2 separate regions of the Homo sapiens genome follow, and region 1 is linked to region 2. Evidence: fine-mapped expression QTL. Tissue or cell type: whole blood. Region 2 holds a variant in brackets; the other region holds the start of a gene. All regions are shown on one strand. Distances are between the middles of the regions.

Region 1 (8,312 bases), 93 kb after region 2:
CTCCTCTCTGCTCAGTGTCTCACTTCTAGCTGGATACCAAAAGCACAACAATATCACTGTGAATGAAATCATGATACAAAAATATAACACGAAAGCTTAAATGCACAGGAAGAAAGTCACATTAAATACATTTGAAAAAATGGCTGGGAGCGGGGGCTCATGCCTGTAATCATAGCACTTTGGGAGGCTGAGGCAGGTGGATCACAAGGTCAGGAGATCGGGGCCATCCTGGCTAACACGTTGAAACCCTGTCTCTACTAAAAATACAAAAAAAAAAAAAAAAATAGCTAGGTGTGGTGGCGCACACCTGTAATCCCAGCTACTCGGGAGGCTGAGGCAGAAGTGTTGCTTGAACCTGGGAGGCAGAGGTTGCAGTGTGCCGAGATCATGCCATTGCACTCCAGCCCAGGAGAGAGCGAGAGACTCCGTATCAAAAAAAAAAAAAAAAAGAAAGAAAAAGAAAAATAACAACCTTTGTCAACTACACTATAATATTTAACTAAGGGAATCCTATCAGCGTTTATTCGAAAATGTAAGCAACCTTTATTATTTTACTATCCTGAAGGATGTAATAAACCCATGCTTTTGTTCAACCTAATAACTGGTAGATTACCCAATCAAGTAGTTAACTCAGGTTAGCTACAGGAAAAAAAAAACAAAAAACAAAAAACACAACAACAAAAAAACGCCATTAGCCTGGCACAATGTGCATTCAGTAACCTGTAATCAACTACTAAGTAAATTACAGAAGCAGAAAACAGAGCTGCATGTTTGTTACAAAAAAAAAAAAAAAGGAGAAAGCTTATAACAACTTCCACTTCTTAAGCCATATTGACTCACATTAATTTAGGATGCCTGAGGCTATGAGTATGGTACCCTGAGGTGTAAGTGAAGGTGATCTTCTCTTCTCACGTCTATGAACAATATTTTCCCAACTTTGTTTTTAAAGTGAGAATTAGGGTATAGATAGATGCTTTGTAATTTTTCCATCCAAAAGCTTGAATAAATGGTTAATTGCTGACTTAAATTGCAATAAAGAAGTGTCCTAATTTCAAACAAGGATGCTCACTTTCAGAATCTCATAATCTTTTCAAAATTCTATTTTATTCATAAATAGGATAAAAATCTTTTTGCAAGCTTCACTAAGTCTCTCCATAAGCCCCTGCCCAACAGATGCAAGTTCAATAGCTAGAATTCAAACCAGATAATTTATTGGCTTACAAATGAATTGGCATCTATAAAAATAAGCCTTCTAAAAAGGCTTCACGCTGTTTAAATCCTTCTAAAATGCTCTGGCTAAGCTTGCCCACCCTTTATCAATGTAAGACTGATAAAATGCATTTTCATTATCAACATAAAATGGAAGCATCAAGATAGTTGAAATGTTAGTTTAGAAAGTCATTTGCAGTGACATTTAAAACAATTTATTTGAACATTTGACTCATGATAAGAATACTGCCTATTACATTAAGATTGGCTGTTCAGAATTCACTGGAGCCCTATTCTCCCCCTCTGTGACAGTTAACATCTTTTGATATTAAGGGTCATTACACATCTAAAATGAAAAAGAAATAAGAAAAAAGAACCCCACGCCATTCTGAGCAAGTGCCTATTAAAATGACTGATCCTTGACATTTTAATGCAGACTGTATGATGGCTTCCTCTCTATTGCCCCCTGTGAAGCCTTTCCCTGTATTGGTAATAACTTTGCCGATGTCCAACCCTGTGGAACATTCATCCTACCTTTTCCCCACTCTGCAGAATGCTTCCCTCTAAAGAATCACCAGAGAACAGGGAAAATAAACAAATCTGCAAACAAATTCCCGGGCAGTTCACATCACCTCCCAAAGGACACTGACAATAGCTGAAGAGACCACAACACACAAACTCGTTTTTCAGCCAGCCTGTAATGTTCCTCCTATACACACTCTGGAAATCCTCAGCTCCCTTCAACTCCGGAGCAAGAGCCACCAATATTCCAGGTCAGCCACCTATATAATATGCTCACCACGAGAGAAGACTCAAGGTAAAATTAAACTGACAGAAAAAAGGAATTTTCCTTGTTAGATCATCAAGCCTCCGGAATCATGCAAACATGTGTGTATGTTATGGTGTTTACGGGGACCTAACTGAGAAACGTCGTGGTTCCAGGGGCTTCCCTCATGTGTCAGGATGGACTTTATCAGGATTCTCATCCTACAAAGCTACCATGTCAGTCACAAAAGACAACTACGCAATCTGTTTCGATGTAATAAATTCAGGAGTTGAGCTGTATGGCAAGCCCATCTTAGAAGTCCTCAACACCAGGAGAGGATCTGTCCTAGTTAGGAGCAGAAAGCAGATCTCATAATATCCAAGTTGTCTGGAAACATGATATATGGTAGGGCAGTCTTTCCAGCTCCCATTTTGTTGGTGCCTTCACCTCGGGTTGTCAGGGCTGGGGTTAGGGAAATTGCCTCTTTCCGTCTCTATCTCTTTTAACTTCGCAGCGAGAGCTGGAAGCAGTGACTGTTCCCATCACCTAGTGTCCTTCTGTCAGGGGCCGCTTCGGTAGCTACAGAAGCCTAGCCGCTGGAAGCTTCCTTCCCCGACACTCCATACCTCCATGCCACACCTTTTAGGCAATAACCAAATGTCATTTTGTTCTTTCCCCTTCTCCTGGGCATTATACTGGGAAACTGTTTACGCGCATCGACCCCGCACACCTCCAAAAATCTCCACTTTCCGGGCTCCAAGCAGCTCTCCGCTACTCAGACAGCCCAGGCTAACACCTCGGATTTCCCCATGCAGTTTCCTCTGCAGCGTCTCAATCACAAGGCTGTACGGGCGGCACATGCCAACGGAACCACCACCCCTTCTGCTCCCTCGGGGACTCAAGCCTGCTCTCGGTCAAAGCACAGAAGCGGCTTTCAGCTCCGGGCAGGCGGCCGGGGCGTCGGGGGTACTGGAAGTGCCCAAACCCAGCGGTGCTGCCGCGCGGGGAAGCGGAGGTGCGGCCGCAGGACAAGCGCGCCTCCCAAGTCCCTGGCCACCTGCGATGCGTCCTCAACTCGCCTGCCCATCGCCACTACCAGAAACCTCAGACAGCCCATTGTGTGGGCAGGCAGCGCGCTCCCCCGGCCCCGCCGCCCTCGCCTACCTTCTGTCGGTCTCTCCGGAGCGCCCGCACAGCCGGCAGCCCGCCTCCAGCGCTCTGCAAAGCGAAGGAGGACGCTTTGTTAGGGCTGGAGAAACGGGACAATACTTCGCAGCCGGCGCAGCGGTTCCGGGCGGGCGTCCTTCAAAAGGACGCGAATGGGGACCCGCGTGAGCGTCATTTCCATATGTAAGGGGCCAGCTCTTACAAAAGCGCGGCTCTCGGGGGCCGCGGGCTGCAGCGCGCATCCTCCCCGCCCCCGCCGGCCCGCCCCCGCCCGCGCAGCCCGCGCCTCCGGGACCGGCCCCTCCTCCCGCCTCCGAAGCAGCCCCGTCCCCGCCTCGTCCTCCCGCCCGGCCGCTGCTTCCTCCCGGCCCGCAGGGATTGCGCCCCGCTGGCCCCGGACCCCAAATGGGAAGCCCCCGAGTGATCCGGTGCCCAGTTCGCTCCGGGCTCTCAGGGCCTCGCCGACGGCGCGGGGGCAGCGCGAGGCCTCCGTGCACCCCCAGGCCGTGGGTCCGGGTCCCCGGGGTTGCGCCACTTACTGCGTCCCGGGGCTCAGGCGCCCGGCGCCGCCGCGGGAACCATGGCCGCTGGCGCACTCCGGGCTTGGCGGCGGCAGCGGGACGGCCGCGCCCAGCGCGCTCGGCTCCCGGCTCGGCCGCGGCCACCCGGAGCTCTGGACGCCGGGGAGGAAGGGCCGGGCCCGCGCGGGGAGGAGGAGTCAGGGCGACGCCGGCCCCGGCGCGGCTCCTCCTCTGCGGCCCGCGCGGCTCAGGCAGCGGAGGGAGGAGCGGGCGGCGCCGCCTGAGCCCTCGCAGACGCGCCCTCCCGCTCCGAGCGCCCGCCTCCGAGATCTGAAGTTAGAAACGCCGGGGCTCCGGGTGCGGGTGTAGGAGGCTGGCGCCCCGAGGTCGCCACCGAGCTGGGGCTGGCGCTGCCACCCTCGCCCCTTGCCTGTCCGCCTCCCTTTCTTTCCCAACACGCCTACACTCACCCGCACCGCGGACACTCGGGCCGCAGCGTCTTCGCGCAGAGGAAGGGCCCCCGCCTTCAGCAAGCGGGACTTTAAGGGGGTGATTTCCCAGCCCTCGGGTGTCGATTGGCCATCAACATTGGAAAGGGTGTTCAGGAGGCAGAAGGGCTGTAGAAGTGACTCGGAACCCTGTAGAGCGAGCGCGACCCTCCTGCCGGGTCTACACTGGCTTCCGCACCTGCCCACCACGTCCTCACAGGCTCCCGCCCCTGTGCAGCCTTCTCCGGGTGAAGCTAACCCTCGGTCGCAAGCCACACAGGACGAAAACTCCTTGGAGTTGGTGGTTCCCAGCCCAACAGTTGCTCGATATTAATCGCCTCCTACCTACTACCCCAGAGTCTGCGTTCTCACTCCCCCATCCCTACACTTCTGATCTCATTGCAGTCAAATAGGATCCCAAGTCCAGGCCATGGTTCTTTTTGAGCTGCAGGGTTAAATGTGTTGCCCTTGAAGGATCCGCCTGATGGATTACAACCCACAAGTCTGGTTATTTTAGCAGGAAACTGGTGATTCCTTTTCTACCGAGAAAGCAAGCAACAGACAAGAGGAAACCAGCATTCCTTGAGAATCCAGTGCGCTAGAAACTCGACAGAAATTATCTTATCTAATTCTCACATCACTCTTAGGAGGCAGACATTATTTTGCAGATGAGGAAAATGGATCTCCCAGAAGTCAAAGAGCTTCCTCAGGATCACACAGCAGGAACTCCACAGAACTGAGATTCAAAAGCAGATCACATATGTGGCAAAATTGCATAGAACTGAATATACACTCACAAATGAGAGCACGTGAAACTCATGAAATTTGAATAAGACATTTGGACTACACTAATGTCCATTTACTGATTGTAATATTGTTCTACAGTTATGCAAAATGTTACCATTGAGAAAAATTAAGTGAAGCGTCTATAGGGAATCTCTCTATTATTCCTTACAACTTCAAGCGAATTTACAGTTACCTCAAAAAATTTTTTTAAAAATTTTAAACATCTCAGTCTTATTCAAAAGCCCAGGCTCTCTTCTTTCAACACGGTATATAAGCGTGCCTGCAGAATAAGAGAGATTTATGCTCCTCTCTCCTTTTTAAACAGTCTTGAATAAGTACACATACACACACAAACACACACTCATACACTGTATGCATGGTTGTTCAGTCATCCAGTAATATGATACAACACACACACACACACACGCAGTTCATTAAGAGGATAGCTAACCTGTTACCAGAATACTTACATAGAGGTCATCTTGTAAGACAGACAATAATGCTCACTGGGCACTAAAACAGCCAACAGTCTTGGAAGGTAAGAATGAAGAGGTGTCTTTCTTGTTTCACCTAATCTCTGCCATGGAAGCCTCATCCTACTGGTTACCTCTCCAAGCATCGCTTTTTAACCTGCAAGAATCCTTAAGGATGATATTGATCATTAGTTTAAAACAGTGATTCCTGGGGGTCAGGGGATATTGGAAGTGGCATTCACTCCCTGTGCAGGAAGATCAGAATTGCTGGGGGTTGTGTAATTTGAAAAACACAAGATGCGCTTTCTTGAGAGGAGTAAGTGGGGTGGAGTTAGCCCTGGGACTGGGAACTGGGATCACCTCCAGCCTTGCTACAAAGGAGGGAAAGCATGGAGCATGGTTACCGCGTGGTGTGGGTTGGCAAGAGCAACTCTACCAAGAAAGATGATTTATTTAACACAATGGGCCTGCAGTTTGGTTTGCACTGAGCACATGGTTAGTCTTAGTCCAAACTGGAGTCATGGGAAAAAAAAGCAGAGACTTCCTTTAGAGCCCATTACTTGATCTTTTCTCTGTTAAACACAAAATAACAGCAGAAGTAGCAACCAGGCTCCAGTTCTACATTATAACCAATATAAGAGAGAAAAGAAGAAATGTAAATATTTATTCAGAGTTATCACCCTTTACAAACAAAACTTCACTCTTATCTGTTGCAGCTTATCTGACTCTGATTTTTACTCTCACTTTACAAAGAACCTTGTTCAAGGACCTAGGATCCTTGAAGTATTTGTACGTGAAGTTTTTGAAGGGTTTTCTGCCATATTTCACAGTACGGAACTGGCTTTCTCAGATGGTTAAAGCTCTAAAACGTTAACTAAAGAATAATCCAGGGAAGAGAAAGTTACTCTTTGTTTCTTTTCTTTCTTTTTATTTATTTATTTATTTATTTTTTGAGATGGAGTCTTACTGTGTCGCCCAGGCTGGAGTGCAGTGGTGCAATCTTGTCTCACTGAAACCTCCACCTCCTGGCCTCCTGCGTTCAAGCGATTCTTCTGACTCATCCTCCCAAGTAGCTGGGATTACAGATGTGCACAACCACATCTGGCTAATTTTTGAATTTTTAGTAGAGACAAGGTTTCACCATGTTGGTCAAGCTGGTCTTGAATTCCTGACCTCAAGTGATCCTGCCTCGGCCTCCCAAAGTGCTGGGATTACAGGCGTGAGCCACCACGCCTGGCCTACTCTTTGTTTCTTCTTGAAGTAATTTTGAAATTATCAGTTTAGAGTCAAGACGACAAATGAGAGAGAGAGAGAAAAAGAGAGAGAAAAAGTCAGGCTTTGTAAATTTCCTGGAACCTGAAAAGTTATTTTTTTTTTTCTTAGCCAAAAAAAGGCTCTAACCAAACATAGTCTACCCTCTCCCAACTCACAGTTGGGTATAAACTATTTTTTATTCACAGAATAGTCAAACAGCCTGTCACTCATGTAGCAACTCCTGGCTCCTTCTAAACTTCTTTAATCGATATCTTTCTTATTTCTGTGACCATTTGAACTCAGCAGGACAGTTTTCAGGCAAGTTGCAGAGCTGTGTCAAAGACAGCCAGATTGTTAAAGTAGATGATCAGTTATAGTTTGGCCCAGGAACTCACTCGGTGAAAGAAAGGGACATCAATGATCTCCCCAAGGCCCTAAGGAAAATGAATGAGGAAAGGAAAAAGGGAGAAATTTGAGTTCCAGACATACAAGTCAGGGACTTAAGAGTTCCAGCAGCAAAATGTTGGTGGTTAAGAACCCAGGAAGAAAGAGGAAAAGTATAGGAAAGGGAAGGGAAGGTGACAGAAGGCAAACTGATTTACACTTTTGCCCCTGGGGGACACCTATTAGAAATTAGGATTCTCTATTCATTTTCCTTATGAAGAAAATGAAAGAAGAGGAAACCAGGATTCCATACAATTTATTTTTTTAAAGTAAGCATTGATTGCCTACCCTGTGCCTAATACTGTCCTGAAAGTCACACAATGTTCAAAATAAACATCAGGCTGGGCATGGTGGCTCACACCTGTAATCCCAACATTTCTGGGGGCTAAGGTGGGTGGATGGCTTGAGCTCAGGAGTTCAAGACCAGCCTGGGCAACACAGTGAGACCCCCCTTCTCTACTCCTCTTTTTTTATTAGCCAGGCTGGGTAGCACGTGCCTCTGGTCCCAACTTCTCAGGAGACTGACATAGGAGCATCGATTGAGCCCAGGAGGTCAAGGCTGCAGTGAACAACGATTACACCACTGCACTTTAGCCTGGTGACAGAGTGAGAACCTGTCTCAAACAAAACAAAATGAAGTAACAATCAACCTTGGTTCTTACCCTTGAGGAATGCATCATTCTCTTTTGGGAAGGTAAAAATATGCACTCATGAGACAGTAAAGGAGTGATGTTAGGTGGCATTGGACTCTAATTACATTCTCCAGTTGGGGGACATACACACGCTACAGCATGGGAAGAAGAGAGCAATGATTTCCCTAAAACGTGGCTTCCATTTGATCATTCTGACCATTGCTTTTCACTTCAGGTCCTAGATCTTTTTCCTGACATTCAAGGTCCTTCCTGATCAATGCAAAGGTATGTATCCTCAGTGTCTGCAGGAAACCTACCCTCCCTCCACTCTGCTCATGTGGACCTTCTAATCTTCCCTCTGCTGCTCTTTCAGCCCAGATCATCAGTCCTCATGTGTATTGAATGCCTTGTCTCTCTGTTCATTGTTTGGCGCAGCAACTGAAGCATAGCAGGAAGTGGTTATTGCACATGTGTCTTTTGGATCCCATGGGCTGAGCACTTAGGTACTTTCCAAATACTTGGCATTCACGTGGAGAAGAGATGTTGCATATGTATACATGGGATGGGTGGGT
Region 2 (8,312 bases):
TTTACAAATCCATTTTTTTTCTTTTTCTTTCTTTTTGAGACAGGGTCTCTCACTGTCTCCCAAGCTGGAGTGCAGTGGTGTGATCTCAGCTCATTGCTACCTCCAACTCCTGTGCTTAAACAATCCTGTCTCAGCCTCTCAAGTAGCTGGGACTACAGGTACGTGCCACCACACCTGGCTAATTTTTGTATTTTTTTTTTTTTTTGTAGAGACAGGGTTTCGCCATGTTGCCCAGGCTGGTCTTGAACTTCTGGACTCAAGCCATTTGACTGCCTCAGCCTCCCAAAATGCTGGGATTACAGGTATAAGCCACCATGTCCGGCCACAAATACATTTTCATAGTGATCAGATGTACCTCTCACAAGGCAGTCCTGAGTTCTAAATGTAGTAATGAAGAATAGCAGCACTTGAAATTAAAACTTCCAAATGTTAATGCTCTCAAATTTCCCGCATGGATTTCCCAACTGAAGAGGGTGCTAGAGATCAATCATGTCTATAAAATGCTGCAATATAGGAGGGATCAGTGAACTGGTATAAACATGGTGATGGCAAGAGTGCTCAGGGCCCCTTGGCTAATCAGAGAGTCCCTGCCCCCTGAATTTGCAGAGGTACAGGTCTTTGCATTTTAGGTCATCATTATTACTTACTCTGAAAAGCAGTATGGCTTCCTATGGCAGTATAATGAAGCAAAGTTGTCTGTTAAACTTGGTAAGGCGGACCAAAGAATTCAACTTGGCAGTGTACTTAGATTTTCACAACGGGAATTCAATGCCATGTCTAGTCTCTCCCAACAAATACCTCATTCATGGATTAACATATTCTTCATAGCTAAGGCCATCTGCTGAGAAACTTACCTCCATGAGCTGCTCATCCAGTTTTACTTGTTTCTTTTTCAGGCCTTCATTTTCCAAATGAATTGTTTCTAATTCTTGTTCAAGGGAATTCATCTGACTGACCTGTTTAAAAAAAACAAAATATTCCCTTGAAACAGAAACAAAAACACTTGAGTTGTTCTACTTTATTTTGACAAATCTGTGCTTGTCAGAAATCTCAACTCTTGGAAGAAAGCCAAGTTAATTCAGTGACAAACAAATAATACAATTCAGTGTATTGCTTACATTTAAGTAATCTAGTTTTAATCACCTGTCCTCACACAGAATAGATTCCTTAAGGCAGCTGGCTTTTAAACTTGGATGCCACCCACTGTAAGAAATACGTTTTATCTTACAACGCAGTACACACACCCACACATATGTACAGTACATATCACTGAAATATCCTTACCATGGACCATGTACTCTGATATTTTGTAGTATATTAATAAAAAATGCTGGTTTCCATTAAATTGATTTCATTATCCTCTACTATGGATCTGCAGCAGGAAAAATACTGTCTTAATGCAAACTTAAAGGCTTAAAATTGAGAGTACATAAAACCTGATTTATATAACTTTTTAATTTTAAAGATTTCGTGAGTACCTTTTTTTTTTGAGACAGAGTCTCACTCTGTCACCCAGGCTGGAGTGCAGTGGCACAGTCTCAGCTCACTGCAACCTGCGCTTCCCAGGTTCAAGCGATTCACCTGCCTCAGCTTCCCAAATAGCTGGGACTACAGGTGTGCACCACTGCACCCAGCTAGTTTTTGTATATTTTTTTTTTTTAGAGATGGGATTTCACCATGTTGATGAGACTGGTCTCGAACTCCTGACCTCGTGATCTGCCCACCTCGGCCTCCCAAAGTGCTGGGATTACAGGCATGAGCCACCGCGTCCAGCCTCACTTTTATAACTCTTTACTACAGGAAGAACCTAGTGAGCTAGAGGACACCGAGTCAGAATATTGCTCAGTAAAAAACATACAACACTATCTTAGAAAGCTGATTTTGCTTCTATCAAAAAGAGCTGAGGAGAACAGCAAGAATTGTGAAACAGAAGTGTAGTCTTCCAGGTCCATTTTAAACTTCAGTATTATTAAAAGCCTATCACAGACTTTTCTCCCCCTAATGAGCAGCTAAATGAAACCCATTTTCTTTCTGCAAAGTTTACTTGAATGTACCTGAAATTAAATGACATTTCAGCTTTAGAGCACAACCAGGTCTTCTTACTGCAAATGGTCATGATAACTTTCACAAAAAACAAAAATTTTATGAATATTTTATAATGAAATATTTTTCTCAGATTTCTAAACAGACCATATTTTTTATAAAGAGGTAATAGTGAAAACTGAGTTTCAGTTTAGAAAAAGAAAAGTAACAACTCTGAGAAGTCTGGTCTAGAACTCTAACTTCATGGGACAAATTACAGAAAGCAAACTGATTGGCACTGCAGAGGTGTGACCAGGGGGTAGCCAGCCTCCAAGAGGCCTCAAAGAGCCCCACCTCCGGGTATTCACACCCTTATACAGTCCTCTCCCACACTATACTAGGGTTAGTCTGCGTGACAAATACAGTGCAGCAGAAATGTTGGTATGTCACTCGCAGGATTAGATCATAAAGGGACCACAGCTTCTGTCTTGGTCTTTCGGTCTCAGTGTCTGTTTCATCACTCCTTCTGGGGGAAGCCAGATGCTACACCCTGAGAAAAGGCCCAGGTAGTGAAGAGCTGAGGTCTCAGGCAAGCAGCCAGCAAGGAACAGCAGCCTCTTGCTAACAGTTGTACAAATGAGCTTGTAAAGTAGATCCTCTAGCCCCAGTGAAGCGTTCGGGTAACTGCAGGCCTGGCCAACATGTAGACTGCATCCTCATGAGAGCCCTGAGTTGGACCACCCAGCTAAGCTGCTTCTGAAATCCTGACTTGCAGATAAGACAAGAAATGTTGTTTTAATTTGTTACATAGCAAAAAAAAAAAAAAAAAAAAAAAAAGCCCATATTAAGATGTTTCTAATATTCGAGTGATAAATATTTTGCCAACTTATAAGGGCTTCTAATACTAATAAAGATGATTAATTGCCTTCTTTAAGAAGCTTAAATTGTGGTTTTTTGTTGTTGTTTTTTTTTTTTTTTTTTAAACAGAGTCTCACTCTGTTACCCAGGCTGGAGTACACTGTGTGATCTTAGCTCACTGCAACCTCCGCCTCCTGGGTTCCAGCAATTCTCCTGCCTCAGCCTCCCAAGTAGCTGGGACTATAGGCATGTGCCACCATGCCTGGCTAATTTTTGTGTTTTTTTAGTAGAGATGGAGTTTTACCGTATTGGTCAGGCTGGTCTCAAACTCCTGACTTGGTGATCTGCCTGCATCGGCCTCCCAAAGTGCTGGGATTACAGGCATGAGCCACCACACCCGGCCAAACTGTTATTTTTTCAACCATTATTCAATCAAAAAGAACCACGATGCTATTTTGACAAGATAACAGCATAAAGAGATACATGCCAAAATATGCCATCGTAATCATTTCCTTAGAAGTACACCTGAGAAGAAACACACTTAAGAACGCATTATAGTGAGAACACAGATGTACGCCATATATTCTCAAAAACTCACCTTCCTGTTAGCAGGAGATTGTTCTTTCTGAAACTGATCACACTCTCTCTTTAAGCTCAATTTTTCTTGCTCTGTGGGATTCATGGTACCTGATGGGTTTAGATGTTTTTGGTGCTTGGGAAGAAGATTGGATTCCAACTGACGGACCTAACAGGAACAAATGTAAGAGGAAAAAATGCTAATACAATCACCCAGCCAGCAAAAACAACAAACATAGGGAAAGTTTTAATTCAGTACTTGGGTCCTGTTTAACATCCTTTTTCAATCAAGCCTGTAAATACTTGAAGCTAGCTTTTCTGGATTTCAAAAGACCCTTTCTAGGTGAGTCTGGTTGGGTCTGCAAACCCAGGACTGTAGGAACAAGACTGGGAAGAGGGGACTTCTGGGTCTACTAACTCTCCAGGAGTCAACAGTGTATGTGATGTGGCTGCCAGGAAAACAGGCACAGTGGTCCCAGGCCCTTTTTTTCTGACATGAACACTACTTTTAGGAGAGAATGGGCTGACAGTTCCCATCTGCTCTTATTGGACTATTCACATCTAAAACAGTTCTACGAAGACATGAACCATGTCTGTCTTGCTCACCACTGCAGCATCCGTGATAGCAGTTTCTGGCATGGAGTAGGTGTTCTAACTAAATATCTGCGACTCTTCAGAGTTCCTCCTCAAAAGGGGTGTTAAGCATAGGTTAAATATCATTGGGAGACTATGCAGCAGAGGTAAGGAATTCAAGCACCAAGTTGGTGGTTGGAAAAGACCTTAAACCTTGAAATGCTGTCTTTTAAAGGAGGCACCTTTTTCTCTCGTGAGGAGTTATTTAGACCTGCAAGATCTGAGTCTAGTTTTACCATTTTTGTACTACTAGTCTTGGTGGCCAGCCAATTTGAAGACTATATGGTTCACATAATTTCCATGAGTCTATATTTTGGATATGAAGATTAAAGTCACAAATATATTTTAATATAAAACTGCTTATAAAAATATTTTATAAACATCAGGATAAAATTATATGTGAGTAAATGATAAATGATACATTCTTAAAATAAGTCTGCTATAGCAGGATACTCAAATCCATACCTTAGAACCATTCCAATCATATCCAACATTCATTTTCCTATCAAACTAGTCATTTTCAAACATATGCCATGATGTGCAGCTTCTCCAATTACCTTCTCCCGGGAGTGCGTGAGTTCGGCTTTGGTGTTCTGTACCATGGTCTGGAGCCTCTCATTCTCTTGCCAAAGCAGCTGCTGTTCCTCATTCATCAGATGATCCAACTTGTCCCAGG[A/T]CAGCCTTTTCTGCTGGTTATGGAGCCCTGATGGATGAGTAGCTATCTCTGGGGCCCAGCTCTTAAGAGAATTGCAGAGTGTAAGCCTTAAAAACAAGCTATTGGGTAATTGCTGTTTTGAGACAGGTGTCATGTTTACCCAATGACAACGACTCCTAATAAGTACCTTTCAATTGTCCCCTCAGTCTTCTAATGAAAGTATGTGTATGTACATATAAATATGAATAAAACAATATTCTTGAAGTTTGATTTAAACAAAAAGATTTGGAGAGTCTCTGTTTAAAATGGTCTTTGACAAAACAGCCATGCCATGTCCAATAATGAATATGACTGTAGGGCAAGGCCCAGTTCCATAAAGGACCCAAATGCATTGAGACTGGTGGCTTAAAAGTTGCTTCATTCTTACGAAGTTATCTTTAAGCCCAGAAGATATTCATTTGATTCACAGAGGACATAAAGAGAAGGCTGAAATGCACTGCCAACTCAAAAGCTTTCATAGGCTAAACTCTACTTTCATTTTCACATATGCAATCATATCCTTTTTTTAGAATCCAAAGCACATATTGTCCATGTAATTAACGTCTGAATTCAGAAATGTGCTTTCAGCTACCAAAGTGATTTTTTGGATCTTGAAAATGATTTAAAAAATTAAAAAGATAACACAAATAGATAAGCCTCTTACCTTTTAAACCAAACATGAAAAAAAAAAAGGTACAATCTCATTTTCAGAAAAAGTCAACCCAGAAGTAATTTTAAAAATGGAAACTTTTTTTTTTTTGAGACAGACTCTCACTCTGTCACCCAGGCTGAAGTGCAGTGGCACGATCTCAGCTCACTGCAACCTCCACCTCCCGGGCTCAAGCAATTCTTATGCCTCAGCCTTCCAAGTAGCTGGGATTATGGGCGCATGTACTACCACAGCTGGCTTTTTTTTTTTTTTGAGACAAAGTCTAGCTCTGTCGCCCAGGCTGGAGTGCAGTGGCACGATCTTGGCTCACTGCAACCTAGCCCTCCCGGGTTCAAGCGATTCTCCTGCCTTAGCCTCCCGAGTAGCTGGGATTACAGGCACTCGCCACCATGCCCAGCTAATTTTTTTTATTTTTAGTAGAGATGGGGTTTCAACATGTTGGGCAGGCTGGTCTTGAAGTCCTGACCTCGTGATCCGCCCGCCTAGGCCTCCCAAAGTGCTGGGATTACAAGCGTGAGCCACCATGCCTGGCCATTTTTGTATTTGTAGTAGAGACAGGGTTTCGCCATGTTGGCCAGGCTGGTCTTGAACTCCTGGCTTCAAGTGGTCTGCCTGCCTCGGCCTCCCAAAGCGCTGGGATTACAGGCATGAGCCACCACACCCAGCCCAAAACAACTAGTTTTTTTATAAAAAGTTTCACCAAGAGATAACTGAATGTGTCTACTTTTATTGTAGGACAAAATCTTGACATCTGCCCCAAAATGACATCTATAACATTGTTCTTAATTTATTTGCACACAGATTAGGCAGCACTGTGACTTATTAAAATGAGACACTTTCTACCACACCACCATAATGTGTCAGCCAGCTAACACTTTAATCAGCTCTTCCTGGACTTTCTGGTGCCATAGCAACCTATTTGTAGCAATGAATTATCTCCTGAAATTCAATACTATTGTTTTATGCCTTTTTAGCAGAAGCTGTACTTTTTTGCAAGTCTGTGTATAAGTTCCCAGATTAATTTCTTGCAATGTTTTTCTACATTTGATTTTTTTTAAGGTCACACAAATACTTTTCTCTACCATTTAAGAAAATGTTTTAGTTTTGTTATTACAAAACTCAACTCAGCCATGGTCTTCTGACTTGCTCAATACAAAAAAAAGACCTGTTTTATATCACTATGGTTTCATTTATATGAAATTTAGAAAAAAGCATCCCTAAACTACAGTGGCAGAGGGTACAAAAGTGGTTCCCTTGGGGTTACCAACTGGAGGGAACAAGAGAGAGCCTGCTGAGTGCTGGAAATGTTCTACATTTTTATCTAAGTGATGGTTATACAAACACAGATACATAAAATATGCATATTTATATGTACATACATATACACATAAAAATAACCAAGTTGTCCTAAGATTTGTATACTTTACTGTAAATAACTTATACCTAAATAAAAAAAGAACAAATCACCTTGCCACCAGCATTCTGAAGTTGCTTATGTAAAGACATCACTTCTTGTTTTAAAGCCTCCTTTTCCTGCTGAGTCACTCGTAGGTCAGATTTCATCCGGGACATTTGCAGGTTTACATTCTGCACGGTGTCTTCTAAATTCTGAACCTGTATTGTGAGAATGATCTTTTACTGCTACACAAACTCTTGTGGTCTCACCTCTAGCATGTTCAGGAATGAATAAGGACAAAAGAACTTTCAAGTCTGTTTGTTTCTCTTTACTAAATCCAGCTTTCTTGTCAGTAGCTCAGTGGAAACCTAGGACAGTAGGTATATTTACAGGATGTTAAATTATATTTAGGACAATGATGAACTATGTCTGGAGCAAGGTATTGCTGATAGTCATCTGGTAGATTACTAAATGGTATCTTACAATACCAATGGGTGCCAACTGGCATCACAAAAGATGGTTTCACTGAATTTTGTAGAAATTGTTTTAGCCTATGATGTTGGACTGTAAAGGACCCTCTTAGTTGCAAATAAAAATATATACTTGTAGAATCCTATTCTAGGCTAGGCATGGTGGCCCACACCAGGAATCCCAGTACTTTAGGAAGCCAAGGCAGGAGGATCGCTTGAGCCCAGGAGTTTCAAACTAGTCTAGGCAAGATGGCAAGACCCCCCATCTCTACCAAAAATAAAAAGCTGAGTGTGGTGGCGTGTGCCTGTAGTCCCAACTACCTGGAAGGCTGAGGTGGGAGAATCCTTTGAGCCCAGGAGTTTGAGGTGGCAGCAAGTGGTGATCCAGCCTGGGATACAAAGAAACCTCACCTTTTTTTTTTTTTTTTCTGGAGACAGAGTCTTGCTCTGTCGCCCAGGCTAGAGTGCAGTGGCACGATCTCGGCTCACTGCAACCTCCGCCTCCCAGGTTCACGCCATTCTCCTGCCTCAGCCTCCCCAGTAGCTGGGACTACAAGCACTTGCCACCGCGCTCGGCTAATTTTTTTGTATTTTTAGTAGAGACGGGGTTTCACTGTGTTAGCCAGGATGGTCTTGATCTCTTGACCTCGTGATCCGCCTGCCTCAGCCTCCCAAAGTGCTGGGATTACAGGCGTGAGTCACCGTGCCTGGCTAAGACCTCACCTCTTAAAGAAGAATCCTATTTTACGCTAATACCGCATATAAATTCCAATTTTAAAAATTTAAATTCATAAAGGGAATGTTGATATAGATCTTCAAAATAGGGCATAAACTGCCTTAGAAGTCCTATCTATAAATTAGGAACAAGCAGTCATTTTTATGCACTATTCTCAAGCCTTCATAATTAATAAACTTTGATGGAAATATTTAAATTATTTTGCTGCAATGTTTGAAATATTATTTAAATCATTTTGTCATACTATATTTACTTTT

Evidence for each region. PIP is the estimated chance that this variant, and not a neighbour inherited with it, causes the effect.
Region 1: it holds the start of NIN, and the variant in region 2 is fine-mapped to the expression of NIN in whole blood (TOPMed, PIP 0.95).

The regions. Positions count from the first base shown.
Region 1 is chr14:50,827,325-50,835,636 of GRCh38, forward strand. It overlaps NIN (ninein), which reads right to left and starts at 3,838. Exons shown (of 31, transcript NM_020921.4): 1 at 3,682-3,838; 2 at 3,140-3,193. RefSeq lists an enhancer at 2,520-2,569 and silencers at 3,140-3,259, 3,280-3,329, 3,400-3,679, 3,730-4,179.
Region 2 is chr14:50,734,662-50,742,973 of GRCh38, forward strand. NIN (ninein) reads right to left here. Exons shown (of 31, transcript NM_020921.4): 25 at 6,921-7,067; 26 at 4,647-4,826; 27 at 3,479-3,625; 28 at 855-956. Among named protein-coding and RNA genes, the nearest start is that of SAV1, 71 kb to the left of the region's middle. The variant A/T (reference allele first, on the strand shown) is at 4,766.